4 linked regions of the Homo sapiens genome follow. The protein of the gene in region 3 purifies or fractionates together with the protein of the main gene of each other region. This does not show direct contact. Each region holds a gene or a part of one and is shown on either strand. Other genes may lie near its edges.

What was found.
Region 1: the proteins of MANBA (region 3) and SLC29A2 fractionate together in Homo sapiens (co-fractionation; one large-scale study listed by BioGRID). This does not show direct contact.
Region 2: the proteins of MANBA (region 3) and MFSD2A fractionate together in Homo sapiens (co-fractionation; one large-scale study listed by BioGRID). This does not show direct contact.
Region 4: the proteins of MANBA (region 3) and NIPSNAP2 fractionate together in Homo sapiens (co-fractionation; one large-scale study listed by BioGRID). This does not show direct contact.

The regions. Positions count from the first base shown.
Region 1 is NC_000011.10:66,365,254-66,368,760, forward strand, and holds part of SLC29A2 (equilibrative nucleoside transporter 2), read right to left. Parts: intron 3,419-3,507; coding exon 3,284-3,418; intron 2,617-3,283; coding exon 2,519-2,616; intron 2,296-2,518; coding exon 2,211-2,295; intron 1,312-2,210; coding exon 1,178-1,311; coding exon of another isoform or gene 979-1,177; coding exon 873-978; intron 769-872; coding exon 683-768; intron 1-682. UniProt on the Homo sapiens protein: Bidirectional uniporter involved in the facilitative transport of nucleosides and nucleobases, and contributes to maintaining their cellular homeostasis. Functions as a Na(+)-independent, passive transporter.
Region 2 is NC_000001.11:39,965,145-39,967,937, reverse strand, and holds part of MFSD2A (sodium-dependent lysophosphatidylcholine symporter 1), read right to left. Parts: intron 2,728-2,793; coding exon 2,604-2,727; intron 2,468-2,603; coding exon 2,389-2,467; intron 2,082-2,388; coding exon 1,924-2,081; intron 1,338-1,923; coding exon 1,247-1,337; intron 1,128-1,246; coding exon 1,006-1,127; intron 853-1,005; coding exon 769-852; intron 311-768; coding exon 227-310; intron 135-226; coding exon 22-134; intron 1-21. UniProt on the Homo sapiens protein: Sodium-dependent lysophosphatidylcholine (LPC) symporter, which plays an essential role for blood-brain barrier formation and function. Specifically expressed in endothelium of the blood-brain barrier of micro-vessels and transports LPC into the brain.
Region 3 is NC_000004.12:102,635,322-102,639,537, forward strand, and holds part of MANBA (beta-mannosidase precursor), read right to left. Parts: intron 687-4,216; coding exon 544-686; intron 1-543.
Region 4 is NC_000007.14:55,967,585-55,971,221, reverse strand, and holds part of NIPSNAP2 (protein NipSnap homolog 2), read right to left. Parts: intron 1-3,637. UniProt on the Homo sapiens protein: Protein involved in mitophagy by facilitating recruitment of the autophagy machinery required for clearance of damaged mitochondria.

The DNA.
Region 1 (3,507 bases), on a different chromosome or scaffold from region 3:
AGGATAGACCCATCTGTCACCCCCTGACCTCCTCTGACCTGACCTACCTTGTGAGCCAGTGAGGGAGGACCCAGCACTGGGGCCTGGGCCAAGTCCACCCAGAAATCAGGGACTGGCCTGGGGCTCACCTCTGCCTCTCCCAGGCTCCAGCTTGTGCTCTCCACCGCATCTACAGTTTACGTACTCGGTTCCTCAGAGCACCCACTGGTGGTTCCACAGACCCCCTTGGGGGCAGATGGGGTTTCTGAGTGGGATTGGAAGCTGTAGATCAGCTCCTGTCCTGACTTGGATGAGACCAGCTCCTCTTTCACCTGCGTTATGTATTGTCTCTTTGGAAGATTTCATTTAAAGATACAGTACCATGGCTAAAACCAACCCCAAAACTAAGACTCTTGCTCAGTCCCTCACCTGGTGCAGGAACCTCCATGTAACATTCTCTGAGCAGCAAAGGCTGGATGCTGGGGACACAGAGGTCAGCTGGACATGATTTTTGCTTTCAGGGAGCTCACAGTGCAAGCCCTGGCCTGCACGCCTCCAGGGCCCAAGTGCTCCCTGCTGCTTGGCCAGTGGTTGCATTACCAGGCCATTTGGACTACCAGAAAATCACCTCCATGCTCTTTCAAGCCCTCGGATCCCAAACTGCTTCCTAAAACATCGGATCACCCAGCCCTGGTGTGCTTACCCACAGGAAGTAAGAGGTCAGGCTCCGTCCCAGCCAGTCCATGATGTTGAAGAGGAGGAAGCAGCAGATGGGGTTGAAGAACTGACCTGGGAGGGAAACGGCTGCAGCTCATACTGGTCTCCAACTCCCCTCTCCCGTCCTCTCCCCTTTGTACCCCCTGCCCTGCCGTCTTCTCCACCCTGACACTCACTCCACTTCCCAGGACTGGTGGAGCTGGTCACCATGGCTGTGATGGCGGGGAAGACGGACAGGGTGACTGTGAAGACCAACACAAGGCACAGCGCTGTCAGCCAGATCTGGGAGCCAGAGGCAGGGGTGTGAGCAGGCAGGGCAGTCCCAGGGCCCCACCCTCTTGCCCAAGCCCCATGTGGGAGCAGGACACTTGGGGCCTGGCCCAGCTGTGTCCCTGACCCACTGTGACCCTATGACCTTGGAGTCAATGTGAGCCCCATTCTTCCCCAAAGATGGTGGTTGGGGGCTGTATCCAAGCCAAACCTTCTGGAAGACAGTGAAGACTGAAGGTTTTCCTGGCTTCTGGGGCTCATCTGGCTCTGATTCCGGCTCCTTCTCCAGGTCAAGATCCAGGGTCAGAGCTACTTTCTGGGGACTACTGGGAATCCCGTTCTCATCTGGGGTGAGGGGGGACGGGGAAGGGTCATGCTTGTGACCCAGGTTTCCCGACAGCCAGGCCCAACGAAGGGAGATTCCCAGCAGTTAAAACAAGTGATCCTCAGCTCAGCATGGTGGCTCACGCCTGTAATCCCAACATTTTGGAAGGCCGAGGCGGGCATATTGCTTGAGCCCAGGAGTTCGAGACCAGCCTGGGCAACATGGTGAATCCCCATTTCTACAAAAATAAAAAAATTAGCCGGGCATGGCAGCCTGCACCTATAGTCCCAGCTACTCGGGAGACTGAGGTGGCTCACTTGAGCCCAGGAGGTCGAGGCTGCAGTTGAGTTGTGATAGCACTGCAGTGCAGCCTAGGTGACAGAGTGAGATCCTGACTCAAAATAACAACAACCCCCTCACCCCAAAACAAAAAAAGGTGATCTTCCTCCAGCCTAAGCTGAGGCTGCAGGCGAAGGGAATTCATGATGGAAATATGCATAGCTACCAGGAAGCGCGTGCATGGGTCGGGTGATGAGCGAAGCACCTTAGATGGATTATCTCATTACCATTGCTTTACAAATGACACATTGAGGTTCAGAGGGGTGCAGTGGCTAAGTGGTTTGTCTCAGGCCACACAGCTGGGATGTTGTGAAACTAGTATTCCAATTCAGAGGTCTTCGGATCCAAAGTTTGCATGCATGGAACCTCTGTCGCCTCCCCATTTTATAGAGGTGGAAACTGAGGCCCAAACAACAGCAGGGATGACTTTAATCCTACCAACTTCCCTTCATGATCTTCCTGTTTGCACAAGGCTACTAGGGGTGGGCTCTGGCTGGGAACAGATGGAACAGCTTCCCAGGGGAGGTGGCTCTAGCTTCCTCTGCATCTCCCACCTCCCCAGGAGGGTCTCAGGGCTTACCAGACTGGAGGAGCTCAGCTTTGGTCTCCAGCTCCTGAGCTTGGGCCTGGGATGATTTATTGGCCAGGTAGTAGCGGGCAAACTTCTGCAGAAGGACAGGAAAGTGTTGGGCCTGCCTGGCTTGCCTGAGGTGTCTGGATCCCTCCCCATACCATTGGCCTGGAGGCTGGGGCCCCTCAGTGTCTTCTCTGGGGGTCAGGGCTGAGACCAGGTCTCCTCCACCTCCCCTGGCCTCTCTCAGGGCCTCAGGCTCAGGACTCTATCCAAGATGCTTTGAGGTGGGGCCTCGAGCCCAACAGCAGGCTCACCAGGTGAGGCAGGCTCAGGTAACACACGATGGACATGAGGATGCCCACACAGGGCGTGATAAAGTACCCCAGGGCAGAGGTCTCGGCGTCCACGCCACCTGCGGAGGAACTTCAGCTGCAGAAGAGAGGCACCTGGTCCCGCCGGCTCCCACGGGGCTTCCAACTCTTGTCCCACTTCCCATTGTGTACTTCTCAGACCCACTCCCAGCCTCTTCCGCTCCTCCCTTCACTGACAAATGGGAATCTTGTACAGGGCCCCAGAGCAGCCCTGCACTTCTCTCACTTTCCCCATGTGTCATTTTTGTTGAGCACGTACTATGTGCCAGTAGCCTTCTCTCATTGCATGCTCATTACAATCTGAGCAGGGAGCTATACCAATCACGTCGGTGGGGAAGCTAGCACAGAGAGGTGACAAGCCTTGTCCAACACCCCTAGCTGGTAAGCGGTGAAGCAGATTCAAACCCAAGACTATCTGAATCCCAAACCCATCCCCTTATCCTTCAACTTCAACCTGCTGCCACATGCCAGTATTAGCCCCAGGAATCCTGCCCCTGTCCCTGAGTTAACCCAGTCCTCACTTGGTTATTACTCCTCACTGCAGGGCCCATGAGCCCCACTCCCTAGCCCCAGACCCAATCCCCATTTCCATATCACCTGCTTACCTCCATCTTCACCCAGAACCCATGTGTCTTGCTCTCACATGCCCTCTCTCTTCCCCAAACCTCAGAGGCCACCCCAGCCCTCCAGCCACCCAAGTGCACTCACTGGCCATGGACAGGAGCATGGCAAGGGCAGCAAAGATCCCAGCCAGGCCCTGGCCGCTGAGGAAGAGGGTGCTGTAGGTGGAGGGCATGGTGCCCAGCTGCCCGAAGAGGCTGCCCTGTAGGACTGCACTGAAGGCTGTGGAGGACAGGGATGGGGGCTGCTGCTCAACTAGGCAAGACTCAGAGGCTCCCTGGAGGAGGTGCCGGCAGGATACACAGGGGACT
Region 2 (2,793 bases), on a different chromosome or scaffold from region 3:
GGGGGGCCTGTATATACCTACCAGGGTAGTAAGAAGGCAGCTGCCACACTGATGCCAGCTGCCACAGCTACCGCATATGTAATGATGAGGTTACTCTCCATGAGGGCCACCAAGATGAGAAATGGCACTGCTGACTAGGGAAGGGGGTGCAGGAAGATGAATCAGCTGGGAGGTTCCCACCAGACATCCCAACTCAACCCAGGCTCTGCTCTTCAACCCCACTCACTGAGATCCCAACATATACAGCTGTCTTCTTGCCAAACCGGGTCAAGAACCACTGCCAGATGGGAATGGTTAAAGTGGCCGAGAGCTGTGGATGGACAAAGGGGGTTAAAGGGAGGTGCTTTAGAGCCACAGAGCCCCTCCTGCCCTTCCCAGAACCCCAAAGTGGCTCCCAGCCCTGCCCAAGAGCAGCCAGATGACATCATGTGGGCAGCAACGAAGATGACAGGCACCTTTGACGGCTCCCCAGGGGAGCTCAGAGCTGGTCCAGGCCCACCTTGTCTGCTGCCCTCTCAAACCTCTGAGCCAAGTTCCTGGTGTCCTCGCCCTTGCTTTTGCTGTGCTCACTACTCAAACATCTAACCTCAAACTCTTTCTTTCACAGTCCTACCTTCGCAAGGTCCAACCAAATACCCTGAGAAGCCTCCCTCATCCTTTCATGACCTTGGGCCAGCCTGAGAAACATCCTCTGCCTATTCCAAGAACCATTCCACAGCCTATGTCACCTCAGCCCAGGCTGCCCGCCCCTGCTCAGGTCCCACTCACCATGATGGCCAGGAGTAGATTCTGGAATTCATTGCGGAAGCCCAAGGTGTAGGTGCAAAACAAGACAAAGTTCCCCTCCACCAGCTGGGCATGGAGCAAGGTAGGGAAGGAAATGCAAGGAAGGAGGTGATGTTGGGGCTGAGCCTCCCCAAGACATCCCCCAAGCCCCAGAGACCTCTGCTCACCCCGCTCCCATTACACCTCCTTCTCAGGCTGAGCATGTCAGAACCCACTCACCATGAAAGCCAAGGAGGTGAAGAGGAAGCCAGTAATAAGTTTGATGTATGGGCCGTGGCTCATGACCAGCCGTAGGCCCCGGAAGTAGGCGATTGGCTCAGACTGCTGGGCTTCATAGGGTTCTGGGGGCCAGAGCGGACAGTGAGGAAGGAGCAGAGACCCCTCCCAAAGCCTGAGGGCCAGGCAGAAAGATACAGCTGTCCATGCTGAGGCCTGCACCCCTTCCCAGGCACCCCCTTACCTCTCTGCTCCCGCACGCCCAGGATCAGGATGACAGCACAGATTATATAGATACAGACAATGACCCCCGCTGCCAGCAGGTATGCCTTTTGCTATAAGGAGGTGAAGGCGACATACAAGGATGGTCAGTTTGAGCTCATCCCAGCACCCCAGTTCCAGCAGCCCCACTCAATGATCTTGGGCCAGTCCCCTCCCCTCTGGGAGCGTACTGTCTCCATGTGTGAAATGGGAGGATCATCCTGGGCCTGCTGTTGCTTCCCAAGGCTGGACAGTTAAGATTCACAACATGCTCAGAAACCAGGCTGGTTGAGTGCAGCCCTCACACCTGTAATCCCAGGAGTTTGAAACCAGCCTGGGCAACTTGGCAAGACCCCGTCTCTACAAATAATAATAAAAGGAAAAAAACAGAAACCAGGCTGCAGAGTCTGACAGCCCAGAATTCAAATCTTCCCAAATCTCTGCAATTCACTAACTTTATGACTCTGGGCAACTTATTCAGCCTCTCTAAGCTTCAGTTTCTTTTTCTGCAAAGTAGGTATATTGGGTGCATTAATTGTTATGTATATCAAATGCCCAACATTTATTTAATAAACACTAGCTGTTACTATCTTTAGGATGACTACAAACCACCTCACTGTTCCTTATCTCCCCAAATCCCTGCCCTGCCCAGGGCCTCACCGTTTCCCTGTGTGAGGTGGTGCCATGTGTATGGTTGGCACTTTGTGAAGCTACTGTAGAGCTATTGAGGTCCTGGAAACAAGGCGTGTCTGCTTGGCCCACGATTTGTCCCTGGATCGCCGTGCCCAGCACTGTGCCCAGCACTTCCACAGTCATCCCTGGCAGGAGAAAAGGAGGTGTTTTGGAGGGGCCTCATGGATTGTGGGCCCAGGGAGGAAGGTCAAATGGGTGGGAGCCCAGCGGTAGCTCCAGGCAGGGTGGGTAGAGGTAGTGGGGTAGGTGACACCTTGGTTTGAACGCATATGCACCTCTCCAGGTCTCATCTGAGCAATAAGGGGATTGAGTTATTTTTAAGATGGTTTCACACCCACACTCTAGAGCAGAGCAAAGAGCTGGACCCGCAAGGGAAGAAGTATGGCTGGAGGGTCCCTGGAGGGTGGGGTCAGGTGGGCTGGGGAGACTCACGATAGGCGGTGGCAGAATCCCGCTCAGTCTGCTCGGTGCTGATGAACATGGTGAGAGCCGAGTAGGGAACATGGAAACACTGGCATAGAAGACAGGTCATTGGCTGGTCAGGCGGGTGGACACACTGATGTAGCTTCCAGTACCAACCCTGGGGGCCCCAAGGACCGCCCTCCTCCCGGCCCCTAGAGACACCCAAGGGAGGTACCCACACTCACCGTGACCATTGTTTCAAAGAGGCAATAGAAAAGCAGGTACCAATAGGTCTGGCCGTGTGGGAAGTCGGGCACGAACCAGATGAGGAAGTAGGCAATGACGGCCAGGGGCGTGGAGAAGATGATCCTGAGGAAGAGGAGGGTGTGAGTGGAGGCTGGAGGCTGGAGCCCAGGACCAGGCCCAGCCCAGTCT
Region 3 (4,216 bases):
GTTGTAATTTTTCTGTAAATGTGACCTATTTTCAGTGTTATTAGTGTCCTCCAAACTATAGCCACCTAAGACTTTGAGTTTCTAGCCTTTCTTTTTACTTAAATTTGTTTTTTAAAACAAATTTGCTTTCCACATGCGCATTCTGAATAGTTTTACTGATTTTCACTATAACATGCCATTTTTAACCATTTCTTTTTATAAAGTTTGGACTATTTCCAGCCTCTCACAATTATAAATAACCTTGCATTTAAGGGGCACATTATAGCATATGTGATTTGCTTTCATCTAGTTATTTTATTTCCTACTCATAGAAATCCTGTAAGAAGAGAGACTGGTATCATTTTACTGAGAAGAAATTGAATCAACAAGATGTGAAGGGTTTTGCTTATGGTCACATGATTAATGGCAGGGTTGTAGCCTGAATATATGTATTCTAACTCTAAATTAATTTCTCTTTTATTTTCCCAAAAGAATGTAACCAAACAACTAAAGAAATCATCTAAAAGTCTCCTTCGATCTTAGAAAACAATCCAAGTAACTTACACTGAGTGTCATCGAATAATCCGAGTGAAGATCTGACACACCATAGATATAGAACGTGTTTTCATTCTCAAAGCCTACTGGCAACAGTGGAGCAAAGAAATTCTGAGCAAAGTAATGAAGCATTTTCCACTTTCCTCCGTACTCTGAAAATAATCAAGAGTGTCAGGAGACGGCAAGGTCAAGTAGTCAGAGAGGCACTGTCCAATGGCCCAGCTGTTTGTGGCTCATCGGGGTTCTAAGGGAGTGAGCATGTGAGGGAGAGTCAACAGTGGAGGGCACCCATGTTTGTGAAGCGCTCTGAGCACTCTGGACATTATGTCATGTCACCCTCACAACATCTGGGCAGGCACTAACGAACCAGGGCAGGCATTAACGAACCATGCTGTTAGGCAATTTCATCATTGTGTGATCATAGAGTGTACTTAAACAAACCAAGATGGTATAGCCTACTACACACCTAGACTATATGGTATAGCCTGTTGCTCCAGGCTACTAACCTGTACAGCATATTGCTGTGCTGAATACTGTAGGTAATTCTAATCATAGAAATGGGACAGTGAAAATACAGTATTATAATCTCATGGGACCACCATCATATATGAACTGTGTTGTTGACTGAAATGTTATACGGTGCATGACTGTATATAATAACTTATAGATTCTAGGTAGCTATTGATTGCTTTAATATATAACCATTTCGGGTGATAAGAGATAACAAATACCTCCCCTACTGCACGCACTAGAAGCAGTGGATTTATTGAGCCAATCAACATGGGGCTGTGAGGCCCCCAGAGCAGAAGCAGATATAGAAAACTTGTCACAGCTTCTCCCGGATAACCTTTTTGTCTAATAAGTACAAGGAGCTGGTGATCCTCCTCAGGCAGGCAGGATCCTGCCAGGGTTTAGAAAACAGCCAAGCTCTGGTACTTGGGTTTTCCTACTGTAATATTATTATATATACATATATAATTTTTCTTCTACAGTTAGATATGGTTTGGCTGTGCCCCTACCCAAATCTCATCTTGAATTGTAGCTCCCACAATTCCCATGTGTTGTAGGAGGGACCTGGTAGGAGGTAACTGAACCATGGGGGCAGGTCTTTCCTATGCTGTTCTTGTGATAGTGAATAAGTCTCACGAGATCTGATCGTTTTATAAAGAAGGAGTTTCCTGCACAAGTCCTCTCTTACCCACTGCCATGTAAGAAGTCCCTTTGCTCTTCCTTCGTCTTCTGCCATGATTGTGAGGTCTTCCCAGCCATGTGGAACTGTGAGTCCATTAAACCTCTTTTTCTTTACAAATTACCAGTCTCAGGTATGTCTTCATCAGCAGCATGAGAACAGACTAATACAGGTTCCTAGCTCACAACTACCATAGCCCTTGTTACAGACTCTTGTTATAATGTTGAGAAGCTTTAGGACTCAAAAGCAGGCCTCAGAAAACAGAATCTATCTCTCTGATCTCCTTCCCTCCTTTCACCAGCCCAAGGCAGGTCTCTAATCCGATTGTGGGTCATAAGACACTCATTCAGAAGGTGTCCTGCCTCATACCCTGGAGGAGGAAATGCTTCACAGAGAGGCCAAGAAGCTGAATGGACAGGCCTTGCTGTGTTTCCCCACTCAGTCTAATGGTATTAGATCATACCCGCTTTGTCCAATCACATTTCTACATGGTTATCAATCATGGCTGTCCAATGAAGTCTCCCTATAACGCCCAAGAGGACAGAGTTCAAAGAACTTCCACATAGCTGACCATGTGAAGGCTGACAGAAAGAGGAACAAGTATTCATCTACATGCCTGGAGGGTGGCACACCCCAGCCTCACAGGGATAAAGTTCCTGCACTCAGGACCCTTCCAGACTTCACCCCATATATCTCTTCATACGGCTGTTTATTTGTGTCTTTTAAAACATCCTCTGTAATACAGCAGTTAGAATGTTTCCTTGAGTTCTGTGAGCCATTCCAGCAAATTAAACCCAAAGAAGGGGTCATGGGAACCCCAGCTTGAAGCTGGTCAGTCAGAAGTTCTAGAGGCCCAGACTTGCGACTGCTGTCTAAAGAGGGAAGGCAGCTTTGTGGAACTGAGTTCTCAACCTATGGAATCTGATGCAATCTGCAGGTAGATAGTGTCAGACTTAAATTGGAGGGCACTCGCATGGTGTCCACTGCAGAAGTGATTGCTTGCTTGGTGTGTGGGGGAAGTTTCCCATATATTTGGTCACAGAAGTCTTCTGTGTGGATTGTTGTTGTGGAGTGAGGGAATTAACAAAGCACTTTTAGGCCAGGTGCGGTGGCTCATGCCTGTAATCCCAACACTTTGGGAAGCTGAGGAGGGTAGACTGCTTCAGACCAGGTGTTCAAGACCAGCCTGGGCAACATGGCAAAACCCTGTCTCCAGAAAAAAAATACAAAAATGAGCCAGGCATGGTGGTATGCAGCTATAGACCCAGGTACTCAGGAAGTTGAGGTGGGAGGAAGGCTTGAGCCTGTGGGGTGGAGGCTACAGTGAGCCATGATTGCACCACTGCACTCCAGCCTGGGCAAAAGCAGAGTGAGACCATCTCAACAAAAAAACAAAACAAAACAAAAAACCACTTAGAGTTTGAGTGTCTTGTTTCCCACAGACCTACTCTTCCTGAGGAACTCAGGAATAATCTGCATGGGATCACTTAAAGGAATATTTACAAAAATTGGGCTCTCCCATTTCTTGAATCGAACTCAGTTTCAGTCCACAACCTCATCCACAGACAGAAAGCAGGATCAGTATCCAAGAGTCTCTGAACAGTTATCTCTTTGCCTACCTTTCCAGCATCCCAGAAGGATTTTCCCCCCAATTCTACCCCTGATTCTCATTCAATGCTCTCTTATCTGGTTGGTGCTGATAAAGAGTTTGGTCAGAGAAATTTGATTAGAAATCCAATTCTCTGTAAGAGTCATCCATCTGGCACTAATGAAAACATGTTTGGAATGAATTTCTTTTGATCTGCATTCACAGCCAGTTTAAGAGCCTCACCCCTGCACTCTAGCCTGGGTGTCAGAACAAGACTCTGTCTCAAAAAAAACAAAAAGAACCTCACCCAACCTTTCTACTTTGTGGCCTTGCCTCGTTTTTGACCCCAAACTATTCTTTACATTATTAACTGAACTTTGTTTCAAGTCATCTCTAGTGAAGGGCAAAGACTATTATTCCTTAATTTTTTTTAATGTACCAGAATAGATGGGATAATTCGAACTGCAGGTTCCATGCCAGTCATCTCACCTGTTGCTAGTTGAACTGTTTCAACTGGTCACCTTTCCCATTCGGGATTCTGCCTCTACTAGCTTTTCCCCAAGAGCTAAACAGGGCATAATAAAGATGGCCTTAAGAGACATCTTCATTATGTCCTTAAAGGACATCTTTATTTGTCCTTAAAGGTGAATCAGAGAAAGGGAAACTTTAACACATAAGCGGGCCAAACTTCTACCTGATTGAATTCTCCAACACAGAAGAAGGGATGCTTAAGTTCATGCTTCTTTAGCCCTGGAATGCCCTCTTAAATAAATTCAAAATTCTATGCGTAATAACAAGACACATGGCTGAGACTTTTGTATAGGAATCTATCCCATGCTTAGCCTGCTGTTGCAACTTTGCACAGCACAGAACCCATAATTAGGTTGACCCTAAGGCTCATGGAA
Region 4 (3,637 bases), on a different chromosome or scaffold from region 3:
AACATGCCCAACCTATCTAGTCATTCGAGTCGCAGCTATGCCAACGGCTGCCCAAATGATAAGATCTGGCTTGGGCCTGGGTTCTTAACTGACAGTGACAATCGCCAAGATGGTAGGGGGCACTTTCCAGAGGATAAGGAAGGGTGCACTATACAAAACACTAGACTTGAAATCAAGTCAGCATTCTATGCCGGGCTCTATGGATACAAAGATAAACCAGATGCCAAGCCTATTCAGTCTCACAGGAAAAACCTATCAGTAAACAGCCAGAGTGGCCACAGATGCTGTAAACTTAGACATACACTGCAAGAGCTCAAGTGAACCCACCATCAGCTTGGCCTGGGAGGTGCAGGAGGGACTCCAGTAGGGGCACTCTGGCTCTGTTTTGGAGGGCAAGCAAGACAGGTGGAGAAGGCAGGTGCTAATTCCAGTCAATGGGAACAACATGTACAGGGACATGGAGTCATGACACTGAATGGCATATGTCTGGAATGGCAAGCTGTTTAGCAAGGCAGAAGAGCATGTGGGAGGACCGTGAGGGCGAGGCGAGGGCGACTTTATTCTGTGTAGGGTGAGATGCTGTCAAGTTTTCAAAAAAAATATAAGTGTCGGACAAGCGCAGTGCCTCATGCCTGTAATCCCAGCACTTTGAGAGGCCGAGGTGGGCGGATCATCTGGGGTCAGGAATTCAAGACCAGCCTGGGCAACATGGCCAAACCCTGTCTCTACTAAAAAATACCAAAAAAATGGCCAGGTGTGGTGGTGGACGCCTGTAGTCCCAGCTACTCGGGAGGCTGAGGCAGGAGAATCACTTGAACCTGGGAGGCGGACGTTGCAGTGAGCCAAGATCACGCCACTGCTCTCCAGCCTGGGCAAGAGTGCAAGACTCCGTTTCAAAAAAAAAAAAAAAAATCTAAGTGTCAAAAGCAGCCTGGCAGGAGCGTGGTATATGGCTGCAGCAACAAAGGCCAGGAACATGCTTCCTGGGCACCCTGGCTGCCATGCCCAGCAGCACCAGGTATGCAGAAGGCACTCAATAAATACTCACTAGATGGTCTGGGGTTAAGATGGCAGTGGGGATGAAGAGAAAGGAGTGCATTCAGAAGAAGCTTGTGAGTGCTGATCAGGCGGGGAAGAGGAAACTGAAGAAGGGAAAGGACTTAACGCTGAGACCACAGGATGAGGCAGCAGGAGCACACCGTGCTTCATTCATATGATCTTTTTTTTTTTTTTTTTTTTGAGACAGAGTCTCGCTCCGTCGCCCAGGCTGGAGTGCAGTGGTGGGATCTCGGCTCACTGCAAGTTCCGCCTCCCGGGTTCACGCCATTCTCCTGCCTCAGCCTCCTGAGTAGCTGGGACTACAGGCGCCCACCACCACGCCCGGCTAATTTTTTGTATTTTTAGTAGAGACAGGGTTTCACCATGTTAGCCAGGATGGTCTCGATCTCCTGACCTCGTGATTCGCCCACCTTGGCCTCCCAAAGTTCTGGGATTACAGGCGTGAGCCACCGCGCCCGGCAATATGATCACTGTTATTTACAGACTGTGCACTACACCTGTCAGCCACTGACGATGCACAGATGAACCTGGCCCTGACTTCACGGGAGCTCAGTTTGCTGGTGAGGGCAGACAGACAAACACGATCACAACTCAAACAGACAAGCTCTTCAATGATGACACAAGGAAGTAGGTAGCTGTTGTGGCATGGGTAAGGGCAGCCTGGGGGCCTGCTCTAACGAAGTACCTGTTGAGTGGAAGACTGGAAAGAAGAGGAGCAGATGGTCAGGTAGATACCCATGGAAGGGAGATTCTAAGCAGAACCAGTGAAGGCCAAAGACACAAGTGTGCAAACAGCACCAGCATTTGGAAGCACAGACCCGGGGGAGAGAAGAGGTTGACAGACCCATGCCAAGAAGACTCCTGCCTTAAAGCAGCAGCTCCCTGACTCCCCTCCCCACCACCACACTCCATCCAGCCCCAGTACCCCGTCTTCCACACTGCTGCTCCAGAGACCTGTTCCCACACCTTTCATTTCCAGAAACTTCAAACCCAGAGGAGTTTAAACATGACAAGACTTTTCTGCCCTGCATCTAGATTTTAAAAATGAACATTTTACCATTAAAAGTTTTTCTCTATATATATTTGCTTTTTAATTTCTTTTTTTCTTTTTTTTTTCAGACAGGGCCTTGTTCTCTCATGTCAGCTGGAGGGCAGTGGCGCGATCTCGGCTCACTTCAGCCTCCACCTCCTGCGCTCGAGCAATTACCTTGCTTCAGCCACCTGTATAGCTGGGACTACAGCCCTGCACCACCACACCCTGCTAAATGTTGTAGTTACCCTGCTAAATGTTGTAGTTTTAGTAGAGACAGGGTTTCATCATGTTGTCCACGCTGGTCTTGAGCTTCTGGCCTCATGTGATCCGTGAGCCTTGGCCTCCTACAGTGCTAGGATTACAGGTGTGAACCACCACACCCGGCCCTATATTTGCTTTTTAATTTCTACTGAACCATTTGAAAGTAGAGTTTTGGGCTGGGGGCAGTGGCTCACGCCTATAATCCCACCACTTTGGGAGACCAAAGCAGGCCAAGGCGGGCAGATCACGAGGTCAGGAGATCGAGACCATCCTGGCCAAATGGTGAAACCCCATCTCTATTAAAAATACAAAAAAATTAGCTGGTTGTGGTGGCGCACGCCTGTAGTCCCAGCTAATCGGGAGGCTGAGACAGGAGAATCACTTGAACCCGGGAGGCAGAGGTTGCAGCGAGCCGAGATCACCCCACTGCACTCCGGCCTGGGTGACAGAGCGAGACTCTGTCTCAGGAAAAAAAAAAAAAAAAGAAAGTAGAGTTTGGACATAATGATACTTCTCCCGTAAATCCTTCAGCATGTACCTCCAAAACACAATGACAGAACTACAATGCTATCATCACATCTGAGAAAAACAATTATTCCATCATATCTAATATCCACTCCCTATTAAAATATCCCCAGTTCTCCCCAAAATGTCTTTCATTGCTCTTGTGGGTAGGGGAATGGGGGCAGACAGGGAGGAGGGATTAGGAACCAGTCAAGGTTTGTGTCATAGAGATCTTTCTACTAGGAAAATGTCCGCTTAGAATTCTTTAGACGTGTGGCTGGGCACAATGGCTCACACCTATAATCCTAGAACTTTGGGAGGCGGAGGGTGGGAGGACTGCTTGAGGCCAGGAGTTTGAGACTAGCCTGGGGAACATAGCAAGACCCCCCTCTCTACAAAAAAATTAAAAATTAGCAGCCGGGTGTGGTGATTCATCCCTGTAATGCCAGCACTTTGGGAGGCCGTGGTGGGAGGATCACTTGAGGCCAGGAGTTTGAGACCAGCCTGGGCAACATGGAGAAACCCCATCTCTACTAAAAATACAAAAATTATCCAGGCGTGGTGGTGCACGCCTGTAAGTCCCAGCTGTTCAGGTAGCTGAGACAGGAGAACTGCTTGAACCCAGGAGGTGGAGGTTGCAGGGAGCCGAGATCACGCCACTGAACTCCAGCCTGGGCAACAGAGTGACACTCTGTCTCAAATAAATAAATAAATAAATAAATAAATAAATAATAGCTGGGCATGGTGGTGTGGGCCTGTAGTCCCAGCTACTTGGGAGGC